2 linked regions of the Homo sapiens genome follow. The protein of the gene in region 1 interacts with the protein of each later gene in a pairwise test. Each region holds a gene or a part of one and is shown in the gene's direction. Other genes may lie near its edges.

Region 1 (3,370 bases):
AGAAGATATGAAAAATGTTACTTCTTAACCAAGTAAAGATCTAATAAAAACTACAAATTTTATATCAAGTTACATCATTTTTACATGCACATTTGTACCCCAAATACCATGCCATTAATTAATTTTTCACTGTTCATTTCTAGATGGAAGACTGTATTTGAAAACTACTGTCATGTACTGAATCTTTCCTGTTGAAGAAATCCATGTTATAGAAAAGAACTTTGCAGTCAGACATTCGTCATGGGAAAGTTCAGAAAAAAATAAAGTCCTTTTAAGGGAACTTCCTGAATTTTGTGTATTAATGTTCTTTAAAAGTTTAAGTATTCTACAAAAAAAAAAAAAGTTTTCTCCATTGATTTTCACCTGTGGTTCATACCAGAGACCTGAGAATGTTTGTAAATGTACAAGTATCAAAGTTCTTACAGTTAATTACTGCAACTTGCTGCTGGACAATTGTATACAGAGTTAAAGGCAGGTCTGAATAAGACCTAGCTTTGTTTTTTTCTAATGGAATGAACCATTTTCCTCTTCTGAAAATTCTGTATCTGAGCACATCAAGAGACTCTTGTAGCAGTGGTTACCCAGACTTACAGAATTATGTCCTCCAGAAACCAGCAAGAACACTTGGAATGAACGAATGAACTTGTAGGGGGCATAGAGGATTCTTGAAAAAAAAAAATGCAAGAGTGATTTTCTGTTACATTCAATTTCAAACTCTCTAATTGTGGGTTTTCTCCTGAAGAATTTTTTTTCACATACTTTCCAAAAGACCAACAAATGGATGTTGACAACAACCCAATGAAATAACATTTTGCATATCTGAAAAGAAGCATTGAATATAAGCCAAAAGCTTTCACTGAAGGTTTTTTTTTCTTAAAAATAAAAAAAAATATATAAGTGTAACATGTTTTCATTCCAAACTGGTAGTGGTATGTAGAATTAAAGATAATAATGTTGCTTCTTATTCAAACTGTTGGTCATATGTACAGTATATAAACATAAAACACACAAGGAAGGTATTATGTATGCAGTAGTATACTAGAGTTTAGGAAAATGAAAATTTTAGAAAATATGTTTTGTCACCCTGTTGGTCAGAAAGATGTCTTTCTGGTTTTAACGCATGCAGGCATGTAAATATTTGTCTGGAGTCACAGTATTAATGAATGAGATCTTAAGCATCTGGTGACATCAGAACTCTGTGTCAGCCACTTTTATTTGTATATTGAACCCTAGCTAGTGCCCCAAGCTGCACTATTGGGAATGGATTGTGGCTGAACAGCAAATCAAAACACCAGAAATATTTTTATATGTTAACGTCATATTATGTTAATGTTGCTGAAAACAAAACCTAACAAACCTTGATGTACCAGTCCAATACCATGTAGCGCTGAGTGATAAAGTTAAAATGTGCTGTGCTTCCCACCCTTGTCAGAGGGAAGGGTGGCTATGTGTTATTTTCACTGTCTTTTTGAAAGTTACAGTATGTGTTTTCACTTTCGTGCAGATAACTGGAAGTAAAGCGGCAAACAGTGCTTATTACATGCTAAAGTTACCTTCTCTTTGTTTTTTGCATATCTGGAATTACACCTTTAAAGACTGATATGAATCAGTACGGTCACTATACATTTTATGATTTTTCTGTCATCTTAAAATTGTATGATCGTAACATTATTTATTACCACAAAACAGCAAAATCTTCAATGTCTAAGAAAACTAGCTTAAAATGTTTAAATATAGTTCTGATTGGGTATTAATTACTTGATTAAGAAAAAATTAACATTATAGATACTCTGGCATTACGCTTCTATACCTTTTAGGTCTTCCTTGCAATACTGGAACATAATTCTTTTGTGTAGCTCACTATTAGCCAGCTAAGTTCATCTTTTTAATACCATAAAAAGGTTATATGTACAGTTCCTATTTTAGCTTGCTTACAAAGGGAGCATTATTTTTATTTAAAGTATTGCTAGTAAATGATTTGTAGAAACTTGGTTTTCTAAGCATAGTTCTTCCATAACCACCTTTTGTTGTTTGAGCACAAGGGATTCTTTTCCTAGTTCTATGTGTTTGTTTCCCTATATGCAGTCTTTAAAGGATTACAACACTTAAAATTGAATGGACTTGTGTCAAGCTTTTTGCATCATACATTTTTTGAAAGATTTTTAAAAAAGCCTACAACTTACATATGTAGTAGAATCAGCCATTGCTCTGCTCCTGGCATAGAGTCACCTGTTTGTTATGTGGATTAAATAGTTTTAAAATACATATTTGAAGACCTTTGAGAATGCTTTAGTGTTTGATTTGAAATAAAAGGAAATTTTAGCAAGGATTAAAGAAAAAAGCTATCAGCTGTATGTTAAGAGAGACTCTTACTAACATGTTGTAAATATTACAATTCATGAAATGTTATTGTAAGTCTGTAACTTAATTTTTTCCCTGTTTTAGTTATACAGGTTGGTTTGGAAATTTGTGTTTTGGCATAAACAAGTAAAATGTGCCCATTTTATGGTTTCCATGCTTTTGTAATCCTAAAAATATTAATGTCTAGTTGTTCTATATTATAACCACATTTGCGCTCTATGCAAGCCCTTGGAACAGAACATACTCATCTTCATGTAGGACCTATGAAAATTGTCTATTTTTATCTATATATTTAAAGTTTTCTAAAAATGATAAAAGGTTATTACGAATTTTGTTGTACAAAATCTGTACAAAAATCTGTTTTTACATCATAATGCAAGAATTGGAAATTTTTCTATGGTAGCCTAGTTATTTGAGCCTGGTTTCAATGTGAGAACCACGTTTACTGTTATTGTATTTAATTTTCTTTTCCTTTTCAACAATCTCCTAATAAAACTGTCTGAAATCTCCCTGTGACTTTATTTACAGTTCATCTTTATTAAATTTTGTGAAATGCATAGCATTGAAGGAATATTTACTTTCTAATGGGAGGCATCTAAAAACAACACAAGTCAGCTCTTTGCAATGCAAGGGGAACAATGCTCAATGATTTTATTTAACATGCAACTGCTTCTATCTCTAATATGAATTACTGTGGTGAAAAACATCATAAAAGCACACTCTGTAGTTATTGTTTAACAAGCAGATTTTCCATATTTTGTTTCTTGCCAGCTAAGCAAACTGCCCACATATACATGATTTATTTATGTACATTTCTCAGTTTATGAAGCTGTTATTTGTACCTTTTTTCTTTATATTCTTATATTCCCATGATTCTTATTTCACAAAGCTTTGTGCTGAATAATGCAAAGTAGACATGTTGATGGAACAAAATATATTATTCCCATATCTATGAGTGGAGATTTGTAACTCTAACTCAGTGTTTTGCTTTTGATCTCTATCTTTGGAA
Region 2 (4,001 bases), on another chromosome or scaffold:
GAGACCCCACACCGTATGGACACCTTATTTTAGTTTCTGCCAAATCTGCCGGGATGGCTTCTCATTCCCACTCGCTACCTCGGGCTGCTCCGAGAGTTTCAAACGCTGTGCCACTCGCTTCAGCTGGCAGTGGCGATTATCGGGGTTTCCTCTCCCCGCAGCCAGAGTTCCCGCGCCGCTAGTCTTTGGCAGATAACCCAACAAGCAAGTGAATGTCCCGCTCCGAATCTCAGGAAGTCTCTAAAACAATAAAAGAGACGGACGGAATCCGTTAGCAGAGCCTGCTCCCGGGGGAGGCGGCGAGGCTGCGCGCCCAGAGTAGCGCTCAGCGGTCCCGGCAGGTGCGGGGGCAGTGGAGGGGGCCCGGCGGTTCGCCCGGAGGACGGCCTCGGCTCCGCTCCGGCCAACGTTCCCCCCTCCAAGAAACTTTTCTTTCACTCTGAGAGGCTCCGTGTTGCCATGAAAACGGATTTTCCAAGGGGCCCGACCCTCCCCCTCAGGGGCATCGGACTGGAAAAACCGAAATGGCCACAGAGCAGAGACAAAAAGGGGCCGCTAAGCGGGGGCCAGGATCGAGAGAGCGGAGGCCAGTTCACCCCCTACGTCCCACACATACTTTCCACACCACCTTGTGCGAGCGCCTCCGACAGGCTCAGGAGACGGGCGACTGACTGCTTGCCCGCCCTCCTGCAAACCCCCAAGAGCCTCACAGCCGAATGCACCCCGCAGTCCTGAAGCCTGTCTCCCATGCCCGGGCCCCTGACCCACGCTGCGTCCTGGACGCACTGGCCCTCCTAGAGAAAGATCTGGACAACCAGCGGCCAATTCCAGGGAGAGCTTCTTGGAGACGCAGCCAGGAGCACTTCCAATGAGCCTGGAGTCCCTAAGCCGGCCTGGGTAGCTGGTGGTGCCCTGCGTTCCTAGCGCTGGCAGCAGAAGCGGCCAGAAAACCTCCGTGCAGACAACGGGAAGCTTTGCGGGCTGGCCGGGGGATGGGGCGCCGGTCTGCCTTGACAGGGTTGCAAAGTTGTTTTCTAAATTCCGAAGGCGCCCCTCTGCCCCCTCCCCCCAATCTGCTTGCGTGCCCCCTCCCCCCTCCCCCCGTCACCTCCTCAGGTTTCGTTCTTTCAAACTTTTTGAAACCCTAATTGGTGGCCTCTGAGTGGGCCTCGTGGACTCCCGCCTCCTAAGTAACTCTTACCACGTCACTAGGCCAAAGAGGGGCGTGGGGTGAACGAAAGGGCTCCCCGAACTTTTTTTTTTCCAGCCAGGCCGAACGGGGGCTCGGTAATGATTGGCCAGGGCGCATCACTGCGAACCTGTCAATCACGGGTCCTCCGGGTTGCGAGGGGCGGACCAAGCCCCAACCCCGGGGAATCCGAGCAGGTATATAAGGGGCCCAGCTAGAGCCCAGGCAGACTGTGAATGCGACCTGTTCGAGAGAACTCATCAGGTGCGAGAAGCCCGCGGGTTCCTGCTGATTTGGCGCGGAGCATTTTGATAAGCCTACCCTTCCCGCCGGACTCGCTGGCCCACAGGCCCCCAAGCTCCGCTCCGACGGAGTCCCAGGGCCTTTTCACCGTGGCCGCTCCAGCCCCGGGAGCGCCTTCTCCTCCCGCCACGCTGGCGCACCTTCTTCCCGCCCCGGCAATGTACAGCCTTCTGGAGACTGAACTCAAGAACCCCGTAGGGACACCCACACAAGCGGCGGGCACCGGCGGCCCCGCAGCCCCGGGAGGCGCAGGCAAGAGTAGTGCGAACGCAGCCGGCGGCGCGAACTCGGGCGGCGGCAGCAGCGGTGGTGCGAGCGGAGGTGGCGGGGGTACAGACCAGGACCGTGTGAAACGGCCCATGAACGCCTTCATGGTATGGTCCCGCGGGCAGCGGCGCAAAATGGCCCTGGAGAACCCCAAGATGCACAATTCTGAGATCAGCAAGCGCTTGGGCGCCGACTGGAAACTGCTGACCGACGCCGAGAAGCGACCATTCATCGACGAGGCCAAGCGACTTCGCGCCGTGCACATGAAGGAGTATCCGGACTACAAGTACCGACCGCGCCGCAAGACCAAGACGCTGCTCAAGAAAGATAAGTACTCCCTGCCCAGCGGCCTCCTGCCTCCCGGTGCCGCGGCCGCCGCCGCCGCTGCCGCGGCCGCAGCCGCTGCCGCCAGCAGTCCGGTGGGCGTGGGCCAGCGCCTGGACACGTACACGCACGTGAACGGCTGGGCCAACGGCGCGTACTCGCTGGTGCAGGAGCAGCTGGGCTACGCGCAGCCCCCGAGCATGAGCAGCCCGCCGCCGCCGCCCGCGCTGCCGCCGATGCACCGCTACGACATGGCCGGCCTGCAGTACAGCCCAATGATGCCGCCCGGCGCTCAGAGCTACATGAACGTCGCTGCCGCGGCCGCCGCCGCCTCGGGCTACGGGGGCATGGCGCCCTCAGCCACAGCAGCCGCGGCCGCCGCCTACGGGCAGCAGCCCGCCACCGCCGCGGCCGCAGCTGCGGCCGCAGCCGCCATGAGCCTGGGCCCCATGGGCTCGGTAGTGAAGTCTGAGCCCAGCTCGCCGCCGCCCGCCATCGCATCGCACTCTCAGCGCGCGTGCCTCGGCGACCTGCGCGACATGATCAGCATGTACCTGCCACCCGGCGGGGACGCGGCCGACGCCGCCTCTCCGCTGCCCGGCGGTCGCCTGCACGGCGTGCACCAGCACTACCAGGGCGCCGGGACTGCAGTCAACGGAACGGTGCCGCTGACCCACATCTGAGCACCGGCCTGCGCTCGTCCACCCTTGTTCCCCACCCCCACCCCCACTCCCGCCCCGCACCCCCAAGTTGGGACGCCTTGTTTAGCTTTGCTTGCCTGGGACTGTTGCCTTGTACCGATGATGGGGAGGGCTGAAAGTTTTGCTGTAGCTGTCGGGTTTTGTACAAAAGCAAAAATAAGTCAGGAGCAGCGAAAATGGGACTTCTAGAGAGCTCTCTTGCCCCACGCCGCTGCTCCTTTCACCTTTGTAGGCTGGGAATCGCTGTGTTATTTGCAAAGAAAAAACAGCCCCCACTCCTCCTCCTGAGTTCCAGGGTTATTCTGTTACATTTGAAAATGTTGTCTTGTTAGTTTGCAGTTAGCCAAGGAGTGAATGGGAGAAACATAGTATCGGGTGAGGCCAGCTGGAGAACTGCAACGCCTACGCCCCCAGTCGTGTCGCGTCTGTTTTCCTCGTGGTTTTTTGGGGCGCTGACCGCTCCAAGCAGCGCGGCAGCTAAAGCCAATGTTAATTTATAGCCAGGTGTGCGTGTGTCTCCCGCCTCGCCGCCCCTGGCCGCGGGACAGCTTCTGTCCAATCATGTTGAGTTGGTGATTTCTGCCGTGATCTGTTTGATATTTCTTCGCGCTAATGTGTTCAGATTTCGTTTGGGTAGTGGGGAGGGGCTACTTTGTTTCAGGGTTTTCAAGCTTTTACTCTTAATTCCTAAATGAGATCAATAAATTTTATAACCAACATGATGGAGTCCTGATAATTTTGCGGCCCTGAAACTTTTTTGCAGGTTGGGGAGGAACCAACACTCGGTTTTACAACTGAGATCCCATCCTAGGGGCGGGGTGGGACCTGGGGGGAGGCAAGCATAATCTGAAATGGTTTCCTTTTAACTACTGGTGATCCACCATACACCAGCTTCCAATATTCTCAACTGAAACTCGGAACAGAGTTCCGAGTCTTCCAGGAGCGTCTCCCGAGAGCGGGCACACAGTAGTAGCTAATGCGCAGAGCCCGCGGCCGCGCACTTGTTGATCGCAGTGAGCGTCTGCTGAAAGTGTCTGCTGCCGCAGCCACGCGAGGCGGGGCTGGAAAGGCGCGGCCGCTGAAACCGACCAAAAACGGGGCACTTTTACCTTTGTGCACTGGGGCGGGAAGACATTTGAGCCTAGCTGAAATATTTACAAAACGAAAACCCTTCGGAAATCTCGATGATCCTATTAAAAATAAATGGTTACAGGGAT

Evidence for each region. The genes of interacting proteins can lie anywhere in the genome.
Region 2: the proteins of DACH1 (region 1) and SOX3 come close enough for resonance energy transfer, tested with the Homo sapiens proteins (one large-scale study listed by BioGRID).

What each region holds. Positions count from the first base shown.
Region 1 is NC_000013.11:71,437,466-71,440,835, reverse strand, and holds the end of DACH1 (dachshund homolog 1), read left to right. Parts: intron 1-143; coding exon 144-181; 3' UTR 182-2,870; downstream 2,871-3,370. UniProt on the Homo sapiens protein: Transcription factor that is involved in regulation of organogenesis. Seems to be a regulator of SIX1, SIX6 and probably SIX5.
Region 2 is NC_000023.11:140,502,485-140,506,485, reverse strand, and holds SOX3 (transcription factor SOX-3), read left to right. Parts: upstream 1-1,416; 5' UTR 1,417-1,425; coding exon 1,426-2,766; 3' UTR 2,767-3,501; downstream 3,502-4,001. UniProt on the Homo sapiens protein: Transcription factor required during the formation of the hypothalamo-pituitary axis. May function as a switch in neuronal development.